4 separate regions of the Homo sapiens genome follow, and regions 2, 3 and 4 are each linked to region 1. Evidence: fine-mapped expression QTL. A gene starts in region 1. Each other region holds a variant in brackets. All regions are shown on one strand. Distances are between the middles of the regions.

What was found. PIP is the estimated chance that this variant, and not a neighbour inherited with it, causes the effect.
Region 2: its variant is the best candidate, but not a certain one, in a credible set for the expression of TMOD3 in blood mononuclear cells (TOPMed, PIP 0.86).
Region 3: its variant is the best candidate, but not a certain one, in a credible set for the expression of TMOD3 in monocytes after Pam3CSK4 (Quach 2016, PIP 0.63).
Region 4: its variant is the best candidate, but not a certain one, in a credible set for the expression of TMOD3 in whole blood (TOPMed, PIP 0.72).

The regions. Positions count from the first base shown.
Region 1 is chr15:51,828,243-51,830,929 of GRCh38, forward strand. TMOD3 (tropomodulin 3) reads left to right here and starts at 1,411. Exons shown (of 10, transcript NM_014547.5): 1 at 1,411-1,594. RefSeq lists silencers at 1,316-1,470, 1,691-1,970.
Region 2 is chr15:51,930,166-51,932,852 of GRCh38, forward strand. All of the region lies in intron 1 of LOC112268148 (a long non-coding RNA gene), which reads left to right. Among named protein-coding and RNA genes, the nearest start is that of LEO1, 40 kb to the right of the region's middle. The variant G/A (reference allele first, on the strand shown) is at 1,260.
Region 3 is chr15:51,893,878-51,896,564 of GRCh38, forward strand. It overlaps TMOD3 (tropomodulin 3), which reads left to right. Exons shown (of 10, transcript NM_014547.5): 6 at 1-68; 7 at 2,542-2,649. Among named protein-coding and RNA genes, the nearest start is that of TMOD3, 66 kb to the left of the region's middle. The variant CT/C (reference allele first, on the strand shown) is at 1,339.
Region 4 is chr15:51,981,302-51,983,988 of GRCh38, forward strand. It overlaps a transcript of MAPK6 not described here. Among named protein-coding and RNA genes, the nearest start is that of LEO1, 11 kb to the left of the region's middle. The variant G/A (reference allele first, on the strand shown) is at 1,396.

The DNA of each region.
Region 1 (2,687 bases):
AAATGCAATGGCCACAAGATTGAGTGTTGACTGTCCTCTAAGTATTTGCAATTGAGAAGGGTTTTTTCCTGGCCAAGCACGGTGGCTCACGCCTGTAATCCCAGCACTTTGGGAGGCCAAGGTGGGCAGATCATGAGGTCAAGAGTTCAAGACCAGAATGGCCAACATGGTGAAAACCCATCTCTACTAGGACTACAAAAATTAGCTGGGTGTGGTGGCACGTGCCTGTAATCCCAGCTACTTGGGAGGCTGAGACAAGAGAATCACTTAAACCTGGGAGGCAGAGGTTGCAGTGAGCCGAGATCACACCACTGCACTTTAGCCTGGGCGGCAGAACAAGACTCTGTCTTGGAAAAAAAAAAAGAAGGGTTTTTTTCCCTTAAAAACCTAAACCATCAGTGATCTCCATTGCTGAAATTAGTGGGTGCCAGTTGCATGAAATTCCAGGATGTTTATCTAACCTAGGGTCCTCCCTCCTCTGAGGGGAAGAAGTAGATGCCAGGAGAGGTTTAAACCATGAAGTGGCTCGCACACTGGGTGTAGCTGGAATGTACCTCAAGCAGGCACGTCAGTCCACTTCTTTGGCTGCATTTTTGAAAGGTGTGTCAAAGTTTAGCATTATTCCTGGGGATGGTCTACTCCTGAAGAGCAGGCCAGGAAAATTCCCAGTAAGTGACTAAATGAATAAATGGAAAAATGTCGCAGTTCCCTCTCCTCAGAGCCTCGCACAAAAGGTAGCCATTACATAGGCCACTGTCAAACAGTCCTCTGAGAGATTCCCACACTCTTCCTCTTCCCTCTAGACTACCCATCTGCCCCAATCCCCCCCTTGAGCAGCCTATTCTGTTTTTTCTCCCACTACAGCAGCCAGCCCCACCGCCTGGTGTAGAGCTTGAAGATGGAAAGGGAAGATAGGATGGGCAGAAACTGCCCTGCAATAGCTACATCATCCCCGAAACGCATACCTAAGAAAACCACTAAGGTCACCACACCCTGGAGGTGACATTCGCATGATTTATGCCTCTCTTGGGCTTTAGATTTTATTCCTTTACTTTTCTATAACTCTGTCATGACCAGTTTAAAGGCCCCAATGTCATGTCCTCGCATTAACAACCAAGGCTACAATGCAAGCCCTGCCATGTGCGCTTCTTTACAAAAGGTCAAAGTAAAAAGGAAATCTATACCAAAGAGCCTCTAGATACTATTTCCAGCTTCGGGGAAGTCCATAGTAGGTACTTCCACGGGTAGAGAACATTATCTTAGACTGGGATAAGGGTTGGTATTCGCAGTCCCCTTCCTACGTTCTGCCCATTGTAAAGACCAGGGTCAGCGTTGAGCCTCGCCCTTCTTGCTAGAACTACAACTCCCAGGATGCCCCGCGGCACGGGAGTGCGCACGCGCGTCGGAGGCGAAGGAGGAACCCACCGCACCTACAGGGCGGTCGAGTGAGGGAGCTGCTGGCGGGTGGGTCTGGCAACTCTTTGGGAGGCCGACGCGGGCGGACCGGCGGGTGCTGGGAACCGAGCCTCGGCTTGCGGCCGGCAGTTTCCGTGGGTCTGTGAAGAGGTCGGCGGCCCCTGCGGGCGCCAGTCAGGTAAGCCCAGCCCGGTGCTTTCCAGGAAGTCCGTCTGCGGGCGCGGGTAGGGAGTCGCACCGGCCATGGTGGCTGAGGAGGGAGAGGTTGCTGCCCGCCGGCCGCCCGACTCCAGGCTCCTTCCCGACGGGTCCGTCTCGGGGAGCAGGGGTGCGCGGGGGCTGCTTCTGCGCGAACGGCCCGGGCGGGGGACGTGGGGCGCGCTGGGCGTCGCCCGCCGGTCTAGGCGCGCGAACCTGGCGTTCCCAGTGAATCACCCGCGGCCCGGGCGCCCGGGTTCGGGACCGGCCCCCTCCCCTCCCGCTGAGCCGCGGCCGAGCTGGCTCCCTGCACCCTACCCAGCGTCGCCGGGACGCGATCACACCGAGATGGCACCGAGCCTCCTTCAAAGGCTTCGGCTTGTTGAAAGTGGGGCGGCGGAGTGGGGGAGCCAAAACTTAGGGCACACCCTTTTTGTGATTGAAATGTGGCTGCCCTTGCATTCACCGGTTTGATCTGTCTGCTCTTAGAATTAAGTTCCTAGCTCCCAGGCAGCACAGCTGGATCCGGCTGGGAAGTTTGTGTGTTAGTTTGTTTTGAGGACGTGACTGTGTCGTTATATTTTTGCTTGCGGGGGATGGTGTGTTTCCTCCGCAAGCCTGCATTCTGATTACAAACAGAAATGGGAAACAGCCACAGTTTCTTTTTTTCTTTTTAATGTTTAGTTAAGAATCGCATTTCCAACTTGCCCTTGGCCTCTGTTAAAACCAAAAGTCATCTGGCAATGAACACTGCAGTAAAACTTACCCCAGGAGGCCATACTTCAACAGGAAATAAGCCTGTGGAGATTTAAGTTAGTTATGTGCAGCCTCCCTTGGTTTGTAACATTTTCATGCAGCTCATGTCTCCTCTCCTTTTCTGAGAAACCTTCAGATTAATTTTTTTGGCAGATTAAATTGATTAATTGGCCCGTCAAAAATATATTAGGCTTGGAAAAATAGCTTTGCCAAGTCTCATTTACTCTTGCTAGTTTCTTCTTCCTAGGCACCTTTTCACCTTTAAGAGTCAGCAATCATAATAGTTACAGTCCCCTTTCTTACACATTCCTACGAAA
Region 2 (2,687 bases), 100 kb after region 1:
CACCCCATCAATACTAGACAACTATTAAAATCAGAATATCAGCATAGCTCATGCTTCTTGTCATAGGCTTGAATAAGAAAAAACTTTAAATCAAAGGTTTTTATATTACATATTAATTATATTTTTATATTATTTTATATTAGTCTAGCCCCTAAAGTTTGGCATCACCCTTATTCTGGGTAGTTCCTTCTGTGCCTTCTTATATCCAGAAATTCCCAATATAGCTAAGAAAGTCACCTATTCATCAGATGTTCAGCTATCCACGTCCTCTCTCAACATGAGAAAGACAGATTCATCAGCCTCTGAAGCTTTCTTTTTTAGCTTTGAATAATGGGATTGGTTGATATTGGTGATCGTACTTACAATCAGCTGTCCTGGAATAGGTGGTTGATTGCCCTCATCACTCTCAGAAGAAACGTCGTCTATATCTCCAAACAGATCCATGGTCCCACTAGGATCTTCGGTGTTGGGGGGAAATGCACAGTATTAATTTTTCCAACTAAAGTTCTTTACACAGTTAGTTCTTGGTCCACCACTTCAACATAGTCCAAAGATTCATAAGCCAAATCTCCACTAAACCAACCTCAAACTGGCTCCCTAAGCCAGGTTCTCAGAAGCTTAACTAACTAGCGTGTCTTTGGAGAAAGGAGGAGGCAGAGTTGGTGGGTGAAAGGTAATCACTGTGGCAGCCAGCTTTCAAGGTTCCTGCCCATCCTAGTGATTCCTGCCTCTGGTTTCCATGCCCTTGTGTGGTCTCCTCCAACACTGTGTCATGATTGATCTATGTGATCAGCAGAATACAACCTGTATTCGAGATGAGGCTATGAAAGACACTGGCTTTTCTGTCTTGCTCTTTCTGTCTTAGGTCACTTGCTCTGGGGAAAGCCACCTGCCATGCCGTGAGGACATTCAAACTGCCTATGGAGAGGTCCACATAGTGAAAAACTAAGGCCCCTGCCAAAACCCATGTGAGCCATCTTGGAAACAGATCCTTCAGCCCTAGGCAAGCCCTTAGATAATGTAGTGCCAGCCAACATCTTGACAGCAGCCTGCAAGAGACTCTGAGTTAGAAACAACCAGCGAAGCCATTCCTGAATTCCTAATCCTCAGAATCAGCATGATAATAGTAAATGCTTATTGTAAGTGCTGAGTTTGAGAGTGATTTGTTTTTATGTTTTTTTTTTTCTTTTTTTTTTTTTTTTTTTTTTGAGACAGGGTCTCACTTCGTCAACCAGGCTAGAGTACAATGGTGCGATCTC[G/A]GCTCACTGCAACCTCTGCCTCCCAGGTTCAAGCAATTCTTCTGCCTCAGCCTCCCAAGTAGCTGGGACTGTAGACACACACCACCATGCCCGGCTAATTTTTGAATTTTTAGTAGAAACAGGGTTTCACCATGTTGGTCAGGCTGATCTGAAACTACTGTCTTCAAGTGATCCACCCGCCATGGCCTCCCAAAGTGCTGGGATTACAGGTTTGAGCCACTGTGCCCGACCAGTTCTTTAGAGAAGTTTTACTAGTGTTTACCCTTTAAAAAGCTTAAGGTTCTATAAAAATGTTACGAACCTTTCCTAAATTCCTGGCTTTTAAAAGTGATGCATCCATAAGTGAGCCTAAGTACACAAACTTGTGGCATCAGGAGCCAGGGCCAAAATGTGTGCATTACTAGAACATGAAAAGCACCATTGCTTAGGGCTATCTTCCTAGTTACAATGTCTGAGTCATGGCCAGATGTGGTGGCTCATGCCTGTAATCCCAGCACTCTGGGAGGCTGAGGTGGGTGGATCACCTGAGGTCAGGAGTTGAGACCAGGCTGGTCAACATGGCGAAACCCTATCTTTACCAAACTTACAAAAATTAGGCAGGCGTAGTGGCACATGCCTGTAATCCCAGCTACTCAGGAGGCTGAGGCACGAGAATTGCTTGAACCCAGGAGGTGGAGGTTGCAGTGAGCCGAGATGCAGAGCGAGACTCCGTCTCAAAAAAAAAAAAAAAAAATTGCAAGTCAGTAAGTTAGTGAATAGCTAGATGCATAATTTGTACAATTTTATAAAGTTTAAGAAAAAGACATTTGCAATGGAGTTATGCTGACTCTTTTCCCTTGTTTGAATCCCCCAAACTGTCACAAAGTATATTTGATGGTAGCTTTGATTGTGATTGTGGCTGTCTAACAAAGACATCTGTTAACCAACACCTGCCAGGGCTCCCGGCTGAAATATGTAGCAACAAAGGAGCAAAATTCTGAACCAAAACAGAAAGAGTGCTTAACAGCATTTCACAACAGTGCTGCTCAGGACCAGCCCAACACTGAATGTATCTGCACTGTGCAAGAATGTTCATAGAAGCCTATGTTGTCCATATTTATCCACAATTGTGTCATATCTTTTTTTATTTTTTATTTTATTTTATTTTTTGAGACGGTGTCTCACTCTGTCGCCCAGGCTGGAGTGCAGTGGCACGATCTTGGCTCACTGCAAGCTCCACCTCCTGGGTTCAAGCAATTCTCCTGCCTCAGCCTCCGTAGCAGCTGGGATTACAGGCACCTGCCACCACACACAGCTAATTTTTGTGTTTTTAGTAGAGACGGGGTTTCACCATGTTGACCAGGCTGGTCCTGAACTGCTGACCTCAAGTAATCCACCTTCCTCGGCCTCCCAAAGTGCTGGGATTACAGGTGTGAGCCACGACACCCA
Region 3 (2,687 bases), 66 kb after region 1:
AAGAGAGTTTGAAGAGAACTAAAGAAAACGATGCTCATCTTGTTGAAGTTAATTTGAATAATATAAAGGTAAGTGTGCTAATCAGAGTGGTTTTGTATTGCTTTGAGTTAGTTGAACCTAGGATGAGAGCTGGGCAGTTGATAAAATAGTCTAATTCTTTCTACTTTAACGTAAAGTTTTTGCTCTTACCAGTATGCTAACATAGGTTTCTTCATATTTTAGATATTGAAGTATTATGGTATAGTATTTTCTAACTTGCTTTTTGAAGAATTTATCATCTAAAAATGTAAACCCTACAAACTGTCAGAATAAATCTCAGGTTTTCTAAATACTGCCCACTTCTAAGAACATTTAGCCTCTTGGGTCTTGCTTTTTTAAAATTCGGTTCCTTAGCCAGGTATGGTGGTGCATGCCTGTAATCCCAGCTACTTGGGAGACTGAGGCTGGAGGATGGCTTGAGCCCAAAAGTTTGAGACCAGCCTGGGCAACATAGTGAGACCTGCCACTGTCCCATCTCAAAAAATAAAATAAAACCTGTTTTTTTGAGGTAAAATTTAAATATGGTAAAATTCTCCCTTTTAGTGTCCAGTTCTATGAATTTTGACAGGTGCATACAATTTTGTACAACCACCATTACACTCAAGATATAGAATATATCTGTCACCGCAAAAGTTCTCTCATACCCCTTTGTAGTCATTCTCTGACCCCCAGCTCTAGCCCCTGACAACCACTGACCTATTTTCTTTCCCTATTATTTTGCCTTCTCCAGAATGTCATATAAATTGAATCCTATAGTATGTAGCCTTTTGGGTCTGGCTTCTTAGCATAATACATTTGAGATTGATTCATGGTGAGTGTGTCAGATACGCTGCAGTTTGTTTATCTGTTCATCAGTTGGAAGACATATGGGTTCCTTCCAGTTTGGGATGTTTATTAATACAGCCACTATATACTTTTCACACACAGGTTTTTGTGTGAACATGTTTTAAATTCTCTTGAGTAAACACCTAGGAATAGGCTTTCTGGGATCTTATTTTGAGTTTTAAACAATGCAACTCTTCCTTGGAGTAAGGAAAGAAGAAATTAGGAGGACATGGGGTAATTAATTACCAAAAAGTAAACTCAAATTATCTAGATATTAGCCATTGTGTAATGGCTTCATTATAAATTCCTCATTTTAAAACTTGATTTTTTTGAAGTCGAGGACAAGTGGAGGAGAGCATCTGGAAATCTTGAGCCTAGGGAAGGAAGCTTCTGTGCTCCTCTAGGGAGTGATCCTTCCTGTGAGTAGAGGAAGGAAAGCCTCAGAGAAAGCTTATATTCATAGTTGATTACTAA[CT/C]TTTTTTTTTTTTTTTTTGAGACAGAGTCTTGCTCTGTTGCCCAGGCTGGAGTGCAGTGGTGCGATCTTGGCTCACTGCAACCTCTGCCCTGCCCCAGGTTCAAGCAATTCTTGTGTCTCAGCCTCCTGAATACCTGGGATTACAGGCATCCACCACCACACCTGGCTAATTTTTGTATTTTTAGTAGAGATGGGGTTTCACCATGTTGGCCAGGCTGGTTTTGAACTCCTGACCTCAAGTGATTCGCCCACCTTGGCCTCCCAAACTGCTGGGATTACAGGTGTGAGCCACTGCGCCCGGCCTATTTTTATTTTTTTTAATTTGGTCCCTGTGTATCCCTTTCTCTAAATAAACAGTAATCATCTGAAAATAACCAGGCTAGGGGGAATTGAAGTCTCAAGATACTACTGAGAGAAACCAGCATCTTCAGTATTTTCTCTCCTTCAAGTAGTGTAGGGTTAATCTCTCTTAGTGCTTTGTAGCTTAAACTAAGTGACTGAGAACAGTCTGTCTGCCTCAGGAATCGTACTCATCAGAGATGGACTCCTTCATTTCTTTCCTTGTAGAAAAGTAAATCCACTTTTATTTTCATATAAAAAGAATAATGAAGGCTGGGTGCAGTGACTCATGCCTGTAATCCCAGCACTTTGGGAGGCCGAGGAGGGTGGATCACCTGAGGTCAGGAGTTCGGGACCAGCCTGACCAACATGATGAAACCCCATCTCTCCTAAAAATACAAAATTAGCTGGACCTGGTGGTGCATGCCTGTAATCTCAGCTACTTGGGAGGCTGAGGCAGGAGGGTTGCTTAAACCTGGGAGATAGAGGTTGCAGTGAGCTGAGATTGCGCCGTTGCACTCCAACCTGGGCAACAAGAGCAAAACTCTGTCTCAAAATACATAAATAAATAAAAGGAATAATGAAAGGTGAGAATAATGAGAATTTTTTTTAACCTAAATGCTAGAGAAATGGTGATATGTGCTCTGCTCTGAGTCAGTAGTTTATGCAAATGCTCCATCGTAGATAAGTCAGATAATTATGGAGGAAGCTGCATTATTTGTATTCATTTGTAGACTAATTCTTAGGTGTTTGTATAATTTCTGAATACATTTTAAAGCAAAAAAAACCATATATTTGATTAATGGAAACTAAATATAATGAAAATTGAAATGTAATGATGTTTTATGTTATTGTCTTTCAAGAATATCCCAATTCCAACCCTAAAAGATTTTGCAAAGGCTTTGGAAACCAACACACATGTGAAATGTTTCAGTCTTGCAGCCACCCGGAGCAATGACCCTGTTGCTACTGTAAGTAAGCGACTTGAGAATATCAAAATTATGACATG
Region 4 (2,687 bases), 150 kb after region 1:
TCTCTACTAAAAATACAAAAAATTAGCCGCGTGTGGTGGCGGGCGCCTGTAGTCCCAGCTACTCCGGAGGCTGAGGCAGGAGAATGGCATGAATGGGAGGCCGAAGCTTGCAGTGAGCCGAGATCGTGCCACTGCAGTCCAGCCTGGGTGACAGAGCGAGACTCCGTCTCAAAAAAAAAAAAGAAAAAGAAAAAAAAGAAAATTCAGACTTATGTGAAGAAAAAAAGAACAGAATAAAGGTAATGAGTCAGAAATTATTTCTTAGGACAGAAGCAAAGTTTGTCCTTTTGGAACCTTTTAAATATAGGGTTGGGTTTAGGAACCCGCTTCCTGGAATAGATAGACTTTAGACTCCTTCCTGAAGCTTGAGGGTTACCAGAGAGCTATGTCCTAAAAAGACCTTTGCAGCAGGCAGGATGAGGTCAGCGTACTCAACACCAGAGCAGGAACAACTACTGGAGGAAAGAATCAGAAGGAACAAAGAAAGGAGGATGGGGTACGGAGGGTGCTGTGGGTGTTAGTGGAGGAAGCTGAATAAGAAAAACGATATGCAGAAAAGATATCAAAGAAACTGAAAATGAGAAGTATAAGGAAGGAAAGAAAGGACGGAAAAAAATAGATTAAGAATACAAAGGGAAAGGAGTGACAGAAGGGGATGGAAAAATAATTTTTTAAGGCACATAATAAAATAGTACTGAGGTGGGGAAATATTGAAACAAAAATGTGAAAACATCCCAACAGCACAAACACAGAGACAGAGAGAAACATCAGGAAATGTAGACTTCCCTGCCAACCAAAATTTTACAAATAGAAAGGAACCACTAAAACAGATCCGGCTCAAACACAAAGCAAAACTGAAAATTTCACTTTACAGCAAAACTGCTCTGATTAGATCTTTCACTGGATTTCCTTATCCAACTGGCTGATTTAGAATCGTGTGAGAACACAGCATAACTGCAGAGATACTATCTCGTCGGCGGGTGGGGACTGCTGGCACGCAGGCTGCATCTGGCCCTCAGTATATTTCATCTCACCCACAGAGGACTACCAAGAGGAGATAATGCTGAATTTCATGCTTGCAATGGCAAAAAAGCATTGCAGTATTAACATCCTTAACAGTAATATGGCAAAAGGCCACAAGATGGTGATGGTATACCCTAAAGAGATCTCAATCATATGTAAAATGAGGTACACACACATACACACTCACACATACACTATACACTTACTAATTTTTCTTTAGAAAGAAAATGTCCTGTGTTGGTGGTGGTGAAGGAGGTCTTAGATAAGAGGAGACTTGAAGAATACTGCCTTTAGATAGCAATCAAAACACTTCTTATGATAAAATGAGGCAGTGTTTTTTCGTGTTTTTCCCAAGTAAAAAAAAATAAAAAA[G/A]GTATTTTTCAGACTAGAAAACACTAAGAAAATATTTTTCAACTATAGGCACTCTGATTTGTATGCATCTGCTGATAAAGTAATCATTTATATAAAGTAACTGTTACCTTTTAAGGAAATTTTTAAATTTTTTCTTGGGCTCCATAAGATGAAATTTCCCTAAAGAATCCAGTGAAGATTTTACTTCCTTGACTGCAGTTTATTTCCTTACTCAATGAGGAAATGACAGGCAGGATTAATTCCTTTCTTTAAATGGGTGTGACATTTTAGGTTAATCATGATTCATAGTGATGTATGGATAAGTTTAACTTTCAGATGTGCAAACACACATGTACACACTTTTTATCTGCTACTTAACACAAAATCAAAATTTGGGTAGGAAAATGGGTTAGAATCCTGGGCCTAAAATGTCAGAAAGAAGTAACTAATAGGAAAACAGCCAAAAAATATCCCAGGGTCATAAATTTCTATTTGCAAAAACAATATTAACCTTTAGAATTTTTTTTTAGGTTGGGCGTGGTGCCTCATGCCTGTAATCCCAGCACTTTGGGAGGCCAAGGTGGGCAGATCACCTGAGGTCGGGAGTTCGAGACCAGCCTGACCAACATGGAGAAACCCCGTATGTACTAAAAATACAAAATTAGCTGGAAGTGGTGGCCTGTAATCCCAGCTACTCAGAGGCTGAGGCAGGAGAATCACTTGGACCCAGGAGGCGGAGGATGCAGTGAGCAGAGATCACGCCATTGCACTCCAGCCTGGGCAACAACAGCGAAACTCCGTCTCAAAACAAGCAAACAAAAAACGACAACAACAAAAAAAAACAGGACAACAGGGCTGATGTGGTGGCTCTTGCTTGGAATCCCAGCACTTTGGGAGGCCTAGGTGGGTGGATTGCTTGAGCCCAGCAGTTGGAGACCAGCCTGGGCAACATACCAAGACACTGTCTCTATAAAAAAATTTAAAAATTAGCTGGCATGGCACATGCCTGTAGTCCCAGCTACTTTGGAGGTTGAGGTGGGAGGATCACTTGAGCCTGGGAGGTTGAGGATGCAGTGAGCCATGATCATGCCACTGCACTCCAGCCTAGGTGACAGAGCAAGATTTTAATAATAATTATTACTAAAATAATAATAAGACAGCCTTTTGAAAGGGCAATTTGGTATTATCTATCTAAACTGTAAATGGCTATACTCTTTGATTAAATATTTCCATGTCTAAGTTCAAGGCTGCAGTGAACTATGATTATGCCACTTCACTCTAGTCTGGGTGAAAGAGCAAGATACTGTCTCATT